Linked DNA regions of Homo sapiens: region 2 is linked to region 1. Evidence: fine-mapped expression QTL. Tissue or cell type: whole blood. Region 1 holds a variant in brackets; the other region holds the start of a gene. All regions are shown on one strand. Distances are from middle to middle.

Evidence for each region. PIP is the estimated chance that this variant, and not a neighbour inherited with it, causes the effect.
Region 2: SEPTIN2 starts here. The variant in region 1 is fine-mapped to the expression of SEPTIN2 in whole blood (INTERVAL, PIP 0.92).

What each region holds. Positions count from the first base shown.
Region 1 is chr2:241,577,942-241,586,040 of GRCh38, forward strand. It overlaps THAP4 (THAP domain containing 4), which reads right to left. Exons shown (of 6, transcript NM_015963.6): 6 at 6,464-6,784. The coding sequence ends at 6,665. It also overlaps the pseudogene RNA5SP122. Among named protein-coding and RNA genes, the nearest start is that of BOK-AS1, 23 kb to the left of the region's middle. RefSeq lists enhancers at 1,529-2,030, 2,031-2,530, 6,358-6,886. The variant G/A (reference allele first, on the strand shown) is at 3,673.
Region 2 is chr2:241,312,786-241,320,884 of GRCh38, forward strand. SEPTIN2 (septin 2) reads left to right here and starts at 3,140. Exons shown (of 13, transcript NM_004404.5): 1 at 3,140-3,197. It overlaps HDLBP (high density lipoprotein binding protein), which reads right to left and starts at 2,887. Exons shown (of 28, transcript NM_005336.6): 1 at 2,785-2,887. RefSeq lists enhancers at 1,863-1,912, 2,793-2,842, 2,863-2,962, 2,888-3,612, 3,603-3,662 and 1 more and silencers at 2,143-2,522, 3,063-3,412.

The DNA.
Region 1 (8,099 bases):
AATGTGAAACCCTAAATGGGAAAAACTTTAAATAGACCATAAAGACACCAAAGTCGATTTTAACACCACCATGGTTTGAATGAATTCCCCAAAAGTTCATGTGTTGGAAACCTGGACTCCAATGCAGCAGTGCTGGGATGGGATTCTGGGGAGGTGATTGGCTCATGAGGACTAATCCATTCATGGACTAATGGGTTCTCAGGGAGTGGAGCAGTTATCACCAGGGGGCTGGTTATAAAAGCCAGCTTTGCCGTCTCTCATGAGACCCTCACATAATGCCCGGCACCACTTGAGACTGCAGAGTCTTGACCAGCAAGAAGGTCCTCACCAGATGCAACTCCTATACCTTGGACTCCCTGCCTCCAGAACTGTAAGAAATAAAATTCTTTTCTTTATAACTTACCCACTCTGTGGTATTCAGTCATAGCAACAGAAAATGAATTAAGACAGAAAGAAAGACCATGTTCCTGGATAAGAAAACTCTCCTAAGCAAGACAATTCTACAAAAGTAAATTTATAAATGTAATGTAATCCTTATAAAAACGCCGCATGCTTTTCCCCAGATCTAGAAAACTAATTATAAAGTTCATGTGAGAGAGGAAGTGCACAGGAGTGTAAAAATAGCCAGGAAAACTCTGCAAAAGAAATGGAGAGGTCCTCTGCCCCCGAACCATCTCCTGGCCTCCGTAATGGAACCACATGACACCAGGACCCATGTAGGCAAGCAGGCCCAGGGACATGAAAACCCGGGGACAGACCCCAGTGCCTAGAACATTCAGTCTATAAGGTAGCATATGATACCGGTGAGGAAAGGATGGACTTGTTAATACAAGTGGTTAAACGTTAACCACTTGGAGAAAGACGAAAATGAATCTGCACTTCATACCATACACTAAGACAAATTCCAAATGGGTCAAAAGTACTAGGAAAAAGTGAATTCCTTCATCACCGGGGAGTGGGCAAAATCTTCTTAAATATGACTTAAAACCCAGGAGTGATAAAAGACAAAATGTATACTGGGAAAAAAGTTTTATAACATAGCACATTTTCAAAGTGTCGGTGACTTGAGTGGGAAGCAGGGCAGTGACTGTCGGGGACTGAGGGTGGGGGGATGGTGTTGAACGGGCGCGGGGTCTCCTTCTGGCGTGATGAAGGCTTTGGAAGCACACAGAAGTGATGGTTGTACGTTATGAATGTATTAAATGCTGCTAAATTGTAGACTTTAAGAGATGGTTAAAATGGTGAATTTTTTTAACCATCTATAGGACTCTGATAAAAATGTTGTTTTATGTATATTTTACCTCAATAAAAATTATAACTTAAAATGAGAAATATTAGGATTAATATTCCTTATTCAAACGAGCTCATGAGTTTGGAAAATCAAGAAAATGATTAAAAAAAAAAAAGAGAGAGAGAAATGCAAACCAAAACCACCCCAAGACTCCATTTCTCACCTACAAGATTGACCCAAATCCAAATTTGACACCAGATTCGGCTGCTGAGGGGGGCAGGGACTTCCTACAATGCTGTGGGGATGCAGAACGCCTGGCCCCTTGGGGACAGGGACAACACCCAGACAAGCCAGATGAGCCTCTCCCCGCCGACTGGCAATCCCACTTCCAGAAATGTATCCTTAAGATACGATGGCCAGAATCCACAAGGATGTGGAAATGCCCTTCTAACCAGACTTAGAAGACAAGCACTCTGCAGTCCCAACGGAGGTGCTGGGTCCAACTCTGACATTTGATTGGCCAAAGACTGGAAACAACCCAAGGCCCAGCATGAGGGGATCTGCTGGCTAACTCACGGTGAGCTAATCCACGGCGAGCTAACCCACGGCGAGCTAACCCACGGCGAGCTAACCCACCGCCAGCTAACCCACGGCGAGCTAACCCACGGCGAGCTAACCCACGGCCAGCTAACCCACGGCGAGCTAACCCACGGCCAGCTAACCCACGGCCAGCTAACCCACGGCCAGCTTACCCACGGCCAGCTAACCCACGGCCAGCTAACCCACGGCGAGCTAACCCACGGCCAGCTTACCCACGGCGAGCTAACCCACGGCGAGCTAACCCACGGCGAGCTAACCCACGGCGAGCTTACCCACGGCGAGCTAACCCACGGCGAGCTAACCCACGGCGAGCTAACCCACGGCGAGCTTACCCACGGCGAGCTAACCCACGGCGAGCTAACCCACGGCGAGCTAATCCACGGCGAGCTAACCCACGGTGAGCTAATCCACGGCGAGCTAACCCACGGCGAGCTTACCGGAGCACTCGGTAGCTGTGCTAGAGGCCTGTGTGGAGCAAATGTGCCTGGTTTTACAGTTCTGACAAGAAAGCCAGTCAAATGATTTGTATTCGCAAAACAAATTATAACAATTTCTAGAATTTAAACAAATGGACTTGTGTATCAAGTTGGTGACAGAAGCGCAGAGTAGTTAATCCAATTACATCATATTTTAACTTTGTATCTTCAAAGGGAAAGGTCTAAAAAAGCTAGCAGAAAAAAACTTTGACCAGTAGTCATTGTTAACAATACCTTTTTTGGTAGAGGTGGGGTCTTACTATGTTGCCCAGGCTTATTTTGAAATGATTATATGCATTTATATGTAGAATAAAGCAAATAATGTTAATGTTGTAATGAACCAAGATTTTCAGCTTAAGAGGTAAAATCAAAGAATATTTAAAAACCCTTATAATCTTAACATTTGAATGGAAAACAGTATGAATTCATATTTTTCAAAAATACATGTGTATATCCCATGCTAAAGTAGTTAAGGGTGAAGGGTCCTGATCTCTAATACAACCTCACGATTCAGAGAAAATAAACCAGAAATTTTTTTTTTTTTTTTTTTTTGAGAGAGAGTGTCTTGCTCTGTCGCCCAGGCTGGAGTGCAATGGTGTGATCTCGGCTCACTGCAACCTCTGCCTCGCAGGTTTAAGCAATTCTCCTGCCTCAGCCCCCCGAGTAGCTGGGATTACAGGTGCCCGCCACCATGCCTGACTAATTTTTTGTATTTTTAGTAGAGATGGGGTTTTGTCATGTTGGCCAGGTTCGAACTCCTTACCTCAGGTGATCCATCCACCTCGGCCTCCCAAAGTGCTGGGATTACAGGCATGAGCCACCGCGCCTAGCTGAGAAAATAAATTTTAGAACAATTTTCTGGTTTTGTCCATGGAAAGGCTGGGAGGTAGAGCAGCCCAGCCATCATAAGCAGTCAGTGCTCAGTCTGTGGCCTCCAATTCCCACTCCCTCCAATTCCCACTCCCCACTAACGAGAACCAGGGCTCTGGAGAAATGGGTAGTTCCAGGTTCTGGGCAGGAAAAGTCAGAGGCAGCTGTGGCCCCAGAGCAAGGAGGCATCAAAGCCCACTGGATGGAGGGGCTCCTCTGTCCAATTACGAGATAATCTGAGCATCTCCTGTTTGCCAAAGATATACGCAGCACTTGATTAAAATGATATCAAATACAGTTGGCCCTCCATTTCTGTGGATTCAACTGTGTATAAAAAATATTCCTGGCCGGGCATGGTGGCTCACACCTGTAATCCTAGCACTTTGGGAGGCTGAGGTGGGTGGATCACGAGGTCAGGAGATCGAGACCAGCCTGGCTAACATGGTGAAATCCCGTCTCTACTAAAAATACAAAAAATTAGCCAGGTGTGGTGGC[G/A]GGCGCCTGTAGTCCCAGCTACTCGGGAGGCTGAGGCAGTAGAATGGCATGAACCCGGGAGGCAGAGCTTGCAGTGAGCCGAGATCGCACCACTGCACTTCAGCCTGGGCAACAGAGCGAGACTCCATCTCAAAAAATAAATAAATAAATAAATAAATAAAAATAAAAATATTCCCCAAAAGCCCACAATAAAAAACCCCAAAAATATACAGTATAACAACTGCGTACAGAGCATTTACACTGTATCAGGTATTATAAGCAATCTAGAGATGACTTAAGGTATATGTGAGAATGTGCATAAGTTGCATGCAAATCCCATGCCATTTTATACAAGAGACTCGAGCATCTGATTTTGGTACCCGTGTGGGTCCTGTAACGCACCCCTGTGGATACTGAGGACAGACTGTATACATGAAAGCATTAAGCTCGTAACATGAGTAGGGAAGCGGGAAGGGTAAGTGCAGTGGTGTGAGGAACTCCCAGTCCTTTGGCACCACTGGAGGGTGCCAGGACATTCTTACTCCAAAAATTGATCATTAAAGGGAAATAATTAAGTGCTTATGCTGCCTTTCTAGTATGAACGCACTTCAGGGTAACCTGACTTACCCTAATGGATAAAGGGAAGGTCTGAGAGAATTCCAGCCACTAAATGTCCTTCTGATGAGACAGAAGACGAGAATTCTGCAGTCCCAGTGAAGGTTCTGGTTCTAGCAATGGTCACCCACAGGTGGCAAAACTGTCAGGGGAACAGTTGAGGGGAAACTGACGATAAAGGGGTCAGGCTGTCGCCATCCAAGCTTATTAATGCTTCAACAAAGTGACACAATTGGACATGAGGCTGTGACACGAGGAACTGAGCACCGTCCGGGTGTGATTCCAGCCACAACTTTAGATCCAACTTCCAGACGACAGGATATAGAGGGGACAGAGGAACAAGTTAAACACTACAAGGAGGATGCTAAGTCCAGACTGGGGACACCTTCGAGGACAAGTGACCAGCTTCACCAACAAGTCAAGGGCACAGGGGAGGGAAGAGGGGGACTTTTAGGATCAAAAGGATCCTAAAAGACTTTGTAGCCAAACACAAACGTGAATAAAGCTTTGATAATCCAATCGTGTGAGGATATTTCTTAGGCAGTAAGGGAAATACGAATAGGACTGTTAGAGAACATTACAGAATTCTTATGCATTTTGTGAAAACAGCACTGTGCCGTCAGTTATTGACTTCTTGTCTCTTGGCTTGTCTGTGCTCTGCCCTGAGTGCTGCCCTTCCACACACCCTTCCAGCTGGGTGTGCTGGAGCCCTGGATGCAGGAGTTGGGGCTGGGACCTCCCTGGTGTTCCCAGGTTATTTCAGCATCACTTTGGGAGCAGAGACAGCTCTGAGCCCAGCCACCAGGTCCCTTGGTGCCCCCTTGGCTCCTGGAGTACAGTCCTAGGCCCTCCTGCCCCTCTTGCGAGAACCAAGCACATCCTGTAAGCTCTGAGGTCCCTGAAACCCCACCCTGGTAATACTTTTTGTCCCCAAGCCCTGGAGGTGGTACCTGCGGTTGCTACCCTGGATGTTAACCCTGCGCAGCCTGTGTGCTACCTATTCTGACTCTGCTTCCCAACACCCGTGTAGCCTCGTCTCCATGTGCCTGGTGAGACTTCTGATATGGCAACGAGTTAAGAGAAAGAAAATGGCTTTGTGTTGTTTTGTGATGCCTACCAAAGGATTTAGGGGCAAGTGACAATATGTCTGGAATTTGCTTACGTGTATTCCCGCAGAAGTGGGGGAGGAAAAGATGGAAGTGCTTTGGGCAAAATGCTGGCAGGTGCTGAAGCTGGGTGACAGGTACAAGGGTTTAGTGTATGTTTGGAAACTTTCATAGTGAAAAAAACCCCACAAAAACGAAAGCTGTATTAGAGTTACAAACTAAAACTTACATGATGATGTTAAGATCACAGCTAGCCTCTTGGGAATGCTCCATCTGTAGGAAAATATAGACTCGGCTCTTTAAAAGTAATGAGAAAATGACTGCCATCTTTTTTTTTTGGAGACAGGGTCTTGCTCTGTCACCCAAGTTGGAGTGCAGTGGTGTGATCTTGGTTCACTGCAACCTCCACCACCCGGGCTCCAGGGATCCTCCCACCTCAGCCTTCTGAGTAGGTGGGACCACAGGCATGGACCACCATACTCGGCTAATATTTCTATTTTTTTTTGTAGGGATGGGGTTTTGCCACGTTGCCCAGGCTGGTCCCAAACTCCTGGCTTCAAGCCATTTCCTCGCCTTGGCCTCCCAAAGTGCTGGGATTATAGGCGTGAGCCACTGCGCCCGGCCAACTCTATAGAAGATTTACAAATATTTTAGATCTTGTCAAAACTGTAAGAAGAAAGAAAAGGAAAGAGATTCATCCCTTCTTAATTTTTTTTTTTTTTTTTTTCCAGACAGAGTCTTGCTCTTGTCTCCCAGGCTGGAGTGCAGTGGTGCGATCTTGGCTCACTGCAACCTCCAACTCCTGGGTTCAAGCGATTCTCCTGCCTTAGCCTCCCAAGTAGCCAGGATTATAGGCATGCGCCACCACACCTGGCTAATTTTTTGTATTTTAAGTAGAGACGGGGTTTCTCCATGTTGGTCAGGCTGGTCTCGAACTCCTGACCTTAGGTGATCCGCCAGCCTTGGTCTCCCATAGTACTGGGATTACAGGCGTGAGCCACCACACCCAGCCCCCTTCTTAATTTCTTAGGGAACGCTTTGGAAAACAAACATCAGCAGATAAAAAAAAAATGTACAGCCTACGCAAGTGATAATATTCAAAATCCTCAGCCATAAAAATAAAGGCCTTTTATTTGGTTTTTCTATGCCAGTACAGAAACATCTGGACAACACTCTTGAGCCTGCAGAGGCTCACGGCCACACCCACTTCTGCCGCAGGGACTGTCTGTTGAGGAGCCGAACCGTTGAGGCACAGTAGCCAGGCCCTCCCGAGGGCTCCAGAAGCTCTAGGTTTACGGGGTCACCTTCTTGTAGGTGACGTGAAGATGCTGAGTCATTGGCTGTGTCGTGGTTGCCATGGAGACCGTCTGCTCAAGTTTGCCTTCAGAATTCAGCCTGAACTTCCGGGTGATCTGAGCAGGAGAATGGAACAAAGATAGCTTAGTTTTATCTTCAAAAGATTCAATCAATGCCTGTGCGCCCACTGCATGCCACACACTCATCACGGGCTGTGAGCCAGGCAGTGGCCCTGCCAGAGGAGGGTAGACACACAGCCCAGGGCCCCTGGGCATGTCACAATCCAGGTGCCCTTCAGCTGCCTCCAGAAGACCACCAGGGGAACACAGGGATTGTTTATTTAGAAGTCACCTTTTTTGTCGACGGCCATACCACCCTGAACGCACCTGATCTCGTCTGACCTCGGAAGCTAAGGAGGGTCGGGCCTGGTTAGTACTTGGATGGGAGAAGTCACCTTTTTTTGGTCTCTACAAATCATATACCTGATCAGACAAGCGCTGAGCTTCCAGTGCTTCCCTTCTCCACTGCCTCCCACTTTCACTGTAACTAGAACTGATGTCCAGTGTGTTCTTGGAAAGCTCAGAAATACCATCTTTGGAACAGTAATTCATCAGAATAAATTATAGCAGCTGTTTCCAACAAGAATCCAAGCCTATGGCAGCTAAGTCCCGAATGAGTCAGCCCTATATGCCCAGAATGTTTGCCGGCAAATTGTGAGAGTGACCACTGTCAAAAGACAATTCTCTGATGGGCACTATCTCTCTAGTGCCCCAGATGTGTGGGGGGTCATGTGGGGTGGGGGGCACCAGAAGTGGATGAAACGGAGTTCTGCTTATGGCCATGGCTGACTACTCTGTAACTGACCAACCCTCCTGCAGATAACAACCCAGGTTTTAAGAAGTTTCTTTAAAGGTGTCAGAGAACCACCAAGTCAGCGAGGACCAGCACCCCAAAGAGAAGGAAGTGTGGAGGTGAGACCCAATTTGGAGCAACTGGCCCCGATGCTTTTGCTGCCCGGAAGTCAAGGGGTTCAAGGGGTGGAGGCTGAGAGGGATGTGGTAGCTAAGAGGCTGAGAAGCTAAGTGGGGCCTTCTCAGACTCATGGAGCTGGAGGGACAAACACTGGAATTCAGTGTCCATCTAGGAGGAGAGGCGCAGCCGGGCATGGTGGTATGCACATGTAGTCCCAGCTACTCGGGAAGTTGAGGCAGCAGAATTGCTTGAACCCAAGAGGTGGAGGTTGCAGTGAGCCGAGATCATGCCACTGCACTTCAGCCTGGGTGACAGAGCAAGACTCCTTCTCAAAAAAAAAAAAAAAAAGAAAAAAAAAAGAAAAAGAAAAAGAAAGAAAAAAAGCACCCTGAGGTTGGGCACGGTGGTTCACGCCTGTAATCCCAGCACTTTGGGAGGCCGAGGCGGGCGGATCACGAG
Region 2 (8,099 bases), 270 kb before region 1:
TCAGCTGGGACGCACTAATGGAGAATCCATATGACCCACGAAGGATCGTAAGATATCCCAGTGGACCCGGCACAATCATCTCAAATTCTGTTCAGGTCAGAGTATCTTAGATAAAACTCACTGAAGGGCATCAAGTCCTTCAGTACACAGTCTGAGCCAAGCCCTCTACCATTTGCCATGGCAAGAGTATACCAAATTCTAAACCTGTTGCTCACGTATGCCACCAACTATAAATGTCAGCCTCCTCTTTCCTAGTCTTCCTGTCCACTCAGCACCACCTGGAAAAACTCTTACTCGTCTTTTAAACCGCAGTTCAAGGACCACATTCTGTAGGAAGACTTTCCAACAGGTAACCACTGCCTATTTCCTATGTCCACACCTTACACATATTTCTATCATTGCACTTATCACACCATAATGTAATTACTCTTCTACAAATAAGTCTCTCACACTAGACCACAAGCTGCCTGAGGAAAAGAAAAGTCTATATCCTCTTTTTTTGTTGGCTTTTTGAGACACAGTCTCACTCTGTCGCCCAGGCTAGAGTGCAGTGCTACAATCTCGGCTCACTGCAACCTCCGCCTCCTGGGTTCAAGCGATTCTCATGCCTCAGCCTCTTGAGCAGCTGGGATTACAGGCGCGCGCCACCATGCCAGGCTAATTTTTGTATTTTTAGTAGAGACAGGGTTTCACCATGTTGGTCAGGCTGGTCTCGAACTCCTGACCTCAAGTGTCCACCCGCCTCGACCTCCCAAAGTGCTGGGATTACAAGCGTGAGCCACTGCACCTGGTCGAAAAGACTATATCCTCTCAACCTTTGTATCTGCAGAACCCTTAACCCTACACAGCAATTTCCAGCAAATATTTTTTTGAATTGAAATGAAGAAGTGAGGTCATGAGGCTGAAGTCAGACAACTGGAAGGCCAAAACAACAAAACCTGGAAAAATACGTATTTACTCAAGAAGAAATTCTCCCACCAGGCCACTGAGAAGTTAGCTTTGCCCACTGGAGAGGACACTGTAACAGGGATTCAAGTAAGCCTAGTGGCGCTGAGGGACGTGATATAGGTCAACTATATCTTTGAGGTGCTCTCCTTACACTCAATGCACTTTTACCCGAATGACGTTAATTTGACTCCTGATAAGATGAGCTAAGTCCCTTCAACAGTGCTTGGCACCAAGCAAAACTAATAGCAGTAACAGGAAAGTTTAATCCTCATGATGAATTATTTAATGGGGTTTCAAACGCTGTCCCTGAGACTTGAGGCAGTAGGCTCCAGCTCCATTTTCCCCAAGTCTAAAACTTGATAGGTTGATGTTTCAGACTCAGAGATTCGGTAATCCAAATGATGGAAATAATTCTTACCCAAACACCTTTTCAACTATTTTTAAATACTGTTGCCAAGCATCCTAATATCATGTGTACTTAATGAATTTAGCCTAGGGATACTTTTACATGTCAAAAAATCAAAATATAAACCTAAGCACTACGTTTCATCCAGTGTTTCAGCATCCCAGATTTGCTTCCCTAAATGAACATTAAGCTTATTATGCAATGTGCCGCTACCAGGAGCCTTAGACAAAACCCTAATTGTGACTTAACCTATCTTAATAGGGTTTTAAGGAAGTTAGCTGCTAAGAAAGTGACTATCCTTAAGCAGACACCAAATAAATGTGAAGTCATTGATTGAGGGCTTAGGGTATAGGTAGCTATGAATCTGAGGACATAAAACGCAAAACTGAGGGGCAAATCGTCATGTTCCTTAAGATTACGACTCATCCACATTCCTTCAGCCGTTTAATTTCACCATAATAGGCACTGTTTAATAAGCAAAGCCCAAGTCGACTTCCTTCGATTTTACATGGCGTCCAAACACCATGTCAAGTCTGACCCTCTCATTTTTTAAGTCGAATGGAGAGGATATGTAGCAGCTAGCCTTGAGCACCTAACCACTTTTCAAAGGAGCTACGCACAAAAATACCCTAGCAACATGCCACGGTGTCAGAAAGGCTCAGGTTCCCAACACCATGCGGGTCAGCCATTAGGAACTCAGGAAGTGTTTCCTCTAAGCGGGGGAAACCTAGGAAGGCTTCCTGAACGAGGGGTATTTGCGCCAAGCCTTGACGTGAGTCTCGAACAGTTGCAGTGCCTCCAGGCCACGCGGGAGGGAGGAAAGGACACCCCGGGCCGGGGCACAACCCGCGGGCCGGAGCCGCCCGCGCCCATCCCGCTCAGGCCGCAGCCAGGCACGGCACCCTCCCGTCCCCGAGCCACGTCGCTGCTCGTGGGCTCGCGGAGCACTCCCCAGGTCTCACCTCGGGCCCCACACCAGAAGGAGAAAGCTAGGGGCCGCGCCAGCTCCGCCCTCCCCCGCGGGGCGGCGGGCCCCAGCCCGGGCACAGGAAGGCCACGTCCCCGGGGAGGGACGCCCGACTCGATGGTCTGCGCAGGGCCCGTCGGCCCCACGTGACGTGCGCGCAGCCAATCCCAGAGAGGCCCCCCGATCATCGAGACGGCGGCGGTGGTGGGCTAGACGAGTTTCGCGCGGCCGCTCGCCGTCCCCCGCCCAGTCGTACTCGGCGCCCCAGCTCGGTGCTGCCGCCATCTTCTTGGAGGACAGGAGGAGAGGCGAAGGCTCCCCCTCCCCGTGATCGCTCCGCACTCCCGCCACCACCTGCCCTCCCGCGACCGCCTCTCTCCTCCTCAGTGGGCACTTGTCTCCTTCTAACAAACGGCCTTCCCCCCACTCCAGTTACCCACCGCAAGGCGAAGATTCTCATTACCTGTTCCACTCTTATAAGCATAAGAAAACCGAGCTCATAAGGTAGGAACTGTGGCGAAACAGGGACAAGCCGCCATCTTGGTAAAGGAGAAGAGGCTACGCTTGACCTCCCCCCCCACCCCCAGCCTCTATATGGCCAACTGCCGTGGGAGGAGCACGGCGCTTGCGCAGAGGCGGACAACGCGGACGACTCTGGGCTTGCGCACTCGGAAGCCGGCCGCATGGGGGAGGGGAAGAAGGCCAGGTCGCACTGAGCCAGGAAGCAGTTGGCAAAGGGGCGGGGTGACGCGGTGACGCAATCCGCCTGCGCGCTGGGCGGGGCGGGGCGGGCTGGGGCGGGCTGTGAGCGGACCGCGAGCGCTGGGCGGGTCCGCGGCGCGGTCGGTCGGCGCCTGTTCTCGGGCTGTTTGGCGGGTGAGTGTCTCGCCGGTGTACCCCGCACAAGTTGTGGGCCGGCCCTCCCGAGGAGCTGCGGGGGACGCGCCGCTCGTCCCATACTCTCGGGCGGTGGTCGGCTGGCTCTGGGGTGCCGGCGGGGCGGTGTGGGGGAGGGGCGGCCGAGCCCAGGCTCTTCGGCACTTATCGTGGGCTCCCCCGTCCCGGGCGGTCCTAGTGCCGGCGACAGTGGCTCCGACACGGGCAGGCCCGGGCGCGGGAGTGGGGATTCCGGTGACCCCTTGTTGACCCTGCGGGAATTCCTCTGCACTGTCGTCGGTGCTGGGCCTCGGGGCGTCGAGTGCGGTCGAGGTCGGGAGGTTTGGTGCTTGGAGGGAGGATACAGGTTTAGGCCCGACAAACACTTAGAGCTTGTGTGGCCATCTTGTCTTTCTAACGGTGCCATTTCCTCCCTGAGGCGTGGAGGACTGGCCAGCCCCCAAACCTCCAAGCCCATCGGCTGGATGCCGTGGATAAGCGAGGGGAGAGCGACTAGGCCCTGTCTGCGGGTACCTTCGGCGAGGAGAGGCGACGAAGGTCTGCACCAGCGAGGCACGGACAGGCAGCAGGGGGTAGGGTATAGGGTTGGAGGCCGCCGAGTTGGCCCGGGGATGAGGAGCAAACCTGTGGCTTCCGTGGTCTCAGTGGAGTCCCAACTGTGACCTGGCCTACTGGCCCAGACAAACCTGGCTTGCTTTTTTACCTTTTCGGTCTAATTCTTGTCAGTGCCACCAGACCTTGTCCTCTCTCCACGGAAACACACGAACCAACTACACTGAACTTCTTGTAGTTCAAACTTCTGCACCTTTGGCCATTGCCCAAACTCTTAAATCTGGCTACTTCCCACCTTAACTGCCTTCTCCTTACCTAGTCTGTGCTTGTGGGATTCCGCCCAAATTAGATTTCCTCCAGACAGGCTTAGGTGTTTACCTGATGTTCCAGATGGTATTTGTCCAGTGGACTATTGGTGCTGTGAGGGCAGGGCACATGTTGTCACCCATACTCATTGCCTCGGTTGGTGTCTAGCACCTAGTAGGTTCTCAAATACTTTTTGAATCACAGTGCCTGCCGATATATTTAATGTTTCAAAATAGTTCTGCCGTCATAAAGAAAAACATCATGGTGTAGGGGTCATGAAAGCTGATTCTTGATACTTCTGATTTGAGCCTCATTGTTTTCAGTGATTTTTGATAGCTCCCATTAATGGGTTCTTTGCACCACCCAGCATCCTAACTCATGATGTGTACTGTTATGTATAATCTTGGCATTGATCTCATTAGCTATAAAGGTTGTCCTGATTTTTTTTCCTCAACTTCCACCTTGATTTCTCTCACCAGTGCCACAGCCAGGAATAAAGAACAAGAGCGTTTTAATTAGATCAGATTTACATTCTGACTGGCTCTTAAACTAGCAAGGTGACCTAGGGAAAGGGGCCAGGGTTTCCCTCTATCATTCATAAATGTAATTCAGGGCCCCTTTTTATCCCCAATACCAGCATACAGAAACTGCTGTAAAAGAAGAAGTTGTGGGTATTTTTTTTTTTTTTTTTGTCTGGAGGAATGGGGACACCAAAACTCATTTGGCAGCAGAGGTGAGGTAAGGCCATTTGTATTGTCTGTTCTGTTAGTAGTCATACATGCCACTTATCCCTGCCCCAGTCCCTGTTAGGAGTGTTATGTGGGTATACTGAACGTGGACCTTCCCCGAATCCAAAGAATCCAGATGCTTTGAATAAGATCATGGACCTTCCGGGTTCTACATCGCCAGATGTTGTTCATCTTCTATCTTTTGTTTTGCGAAAATTGGTTTTTTATGTGTATTGGGGTTATTCTGTGGAAGAAATAAGCTGTGGGTCAAGATTAAAGAACTTTAAACAACTTCTGGCATGTGGAATAAACACGATCTGAAGGAACAAAATTTTCATTTGACTACATTTTTGGTCCAATTTGCACCCAGTGTTTAAGTTAATCACAGTGCTTGGCAGTTTGTGTTGCTGGATCAAGGCTTTCTCACTGAAAACCATGTGCTTCAGAGGTTCATAATTCCTCTTTCACCTTCCATTTCACATTAGTTAATAAATTATGAGAGAAAACATTGTGGATCCAAGTTATGTTTCAGAAAAAAAAAAACAGGAAAAAAAAAAGATGGCAGGAGAAACTTGGTAAAGTCAAAGCAAAGTTGAAATGTCAGTTTAAGACAAATAGTTTCTCCATTTTCCCATATGTGTGCACAGGGTTCAGTGAGGCTGAGGGGTTCTGTGGAGGTGCGGGAGAGGTGCTCTATGGTATTTCTATGTTGCACTGTGTGGGTTTGAAATCAGATACATGTAATAGGTGATAAGGTAAGTGCCTGCTCTTTTCTATCCTCAGCATTGGCATTTAATCTTTCCATGTGAACTTAAAGCTCATTTTATCCAATCCTTTAAGAAAAAAGCCACACCGTTAGGGATTCCAGTTAGAAATGGACTAAATAACATACTCATTTGGGGAAAATAAAAATGATTTGATTTATGTAGGACCTGTTTTCTAGTTTGGTCCCTACTTGTTTGGATTTTTAAAAATTCTGTTGTAAATGATGTGCCCCCATTTCTATTCCTTGATATTTGTTGCTGGTACTTGACTTACTTGAGATCTTATATTTAGCTACCTTACTAAATTATCGTATTCTAGAATTTTTTTAACCAGAGTATTTGTATTTTCTTTTTTTTTTTTTTTTTGAGACAAAGTCTTGCTCTGTTGCCAGGCTGGAGTGCAGTGGTGCGATCTCAGCTCACTGCACCCTCCACCTCCCGGGTTCAAGTGATTCTGCCTCAGCCTCCTGGGTAGCTGGGATTACAGGCAGGCGCCACCACACCTGGCTAATTTTTGTATTTTTGGTAGAGACGGGGTTTCACCATGTTGGCCAGGATGGTCTCAATCTTTTGACCTCGTGATATGCCCGTCTTGGCCTCCCAAAATGCTGGGATTACAGGCATGAGCTACCGCACCCAGCCGAGTATTTGTATTTTCTGTGTATTCAGTCCAATCAGCAAAAAAGTGTTTTCTTTTGATTTTCTTGTTTCATTATATTCAGTAAACTCACCAAGGTAGTATTAAATAATCATGGTGAAATTGCAATATCTGGATCTTACTTGGATCTTGATTCACATGAAAAAAATGAGAGAATAGAGAATATGAATACTGATTGGATATTTGATTGCATTAAAGAACTAGCTATGTGTAATGGTTTGTCATTTTTAGGAGCCCTTATTTTTAGATATGTGTAGTGGAATATAAATGAAATGTTACATCTCGTATTTGCTTCATAATCATCCAGGCAGTGGCATTGATGATTGTGGAAATAGATGAAACATTATTGACCTTCAGTTGCTAATTGTTGAAGCTGGATAATGGATAGCACATGGGGGTTTTGTTTGCTTTTTGTATAGGTCTTCATGTAAAAGTTTTCATGTAAGTGCTTAAAAATAATTATGGAAGGGCATTCCTGCCGAATTATCGGTTGTAATTTAAATAGATTTAATTTTCTATTGTTTAGAAAACAGTATTTGCCTTTGGTTTTCAGAAATATCCTGAATTAGATTTAAGCAGTTTTCCTTTTTTTCTTTTTTTGAGACAGTCTCACTCTGTCACCCAGGCTGGAGTGCAGCAGCACCATCTCGGCTCACTACAGCCTTCACCTCCTGGGCTCAAGGGATCCTCCCACCTCAGTCTCCCACTTAGCTGGGATTACGGGTGCCCGCCACCACACCCAGCTAATTTTTTTGTATTTTTTGTAGAGACAGTGTTTCACCATGTTGTCCAGACTGGTCTTGAACTCCTGAGCTCAAGCGCTCCTCCTGCCTCAGCTTCCCAAAGTGCTGGTATTACAGGCGTGAGCCACCACACTCTGCCAGCAGTTTTCTTACTGTTTTCATTATGATTGGTTGCTGAATTTCATATGCCTCATCAGCATCTATTAATGCATGATTTTTTTTCCCCTATACTGTGTTGTTGGATTAATATTGGTAGATGCTTTTGATACATTCCTGGAATCTAATTGCTAGCAAATATTGTATTCAGGATTTTTGCATTTATATTTGTGAGTGAGATTGGCCTATGGCGTTCATTCATTCCTTTGTTCCTTTCTTATGTCTCCATCTGGGTTTGTTATTAAAACTGTGCTGTCTTCATAAAACAAATTGTTTTCCCTTTTCTCTGTAGAGGCTTGGAATAGTTAAATGACTTTGGTCTTGTCCAAGGTTAGATGGAGTTCAACTCTAACGTCAAGTCTTGGTCCTTTTCATTGGTATGTCTTTAATCAGCTGCTTAGTGATACTTGTTTTAGTCAGATTTTCCAGTTTTTGGTTCTGTATTGGTAATTTACAGTGCCCATTTTTTCTGCATTTTCAGATTTGGGGCCATTTTGCTACATGTAGTCTTCTCTGTCATTATTTTAGCTACTTTTCTATATTTGCTATTTTTTCCTGAATTGGGCTTGTGAGGAATTTGTTTTAGAAAACCAGCTTTTGCGGCCAAGCACGGTGGCTCAGGCCGGTAATCCCAGCACTTTGGGAAACCAGGGTGGGAGGATCACCTGAGGTCAGGAAGTTTCACCTGGCCAGCATGGTGAGACCCCATCTCTACTAAAAATACTAAAATTAGCTGGGCGTGGTGGCGGGCACCTATAATCTCAGCTATTCCGGAGGCTGAGGCAGGAGAATTGCATGAATCCAGGAGGCAGAGGTTGTAGTGAGCTGAGATCGCGCCAGTGCACTCCAGCCTGGGCAACAAGAGCAAAACTCCATCTCAAAAAACAAAAAGAAAACCAGCTTTTGGATTTGTTTACCCTTCTTTTTCCCCCCCTCATAATTCATTTTTTCTCTTTATTGATTTCCTGTTTTAT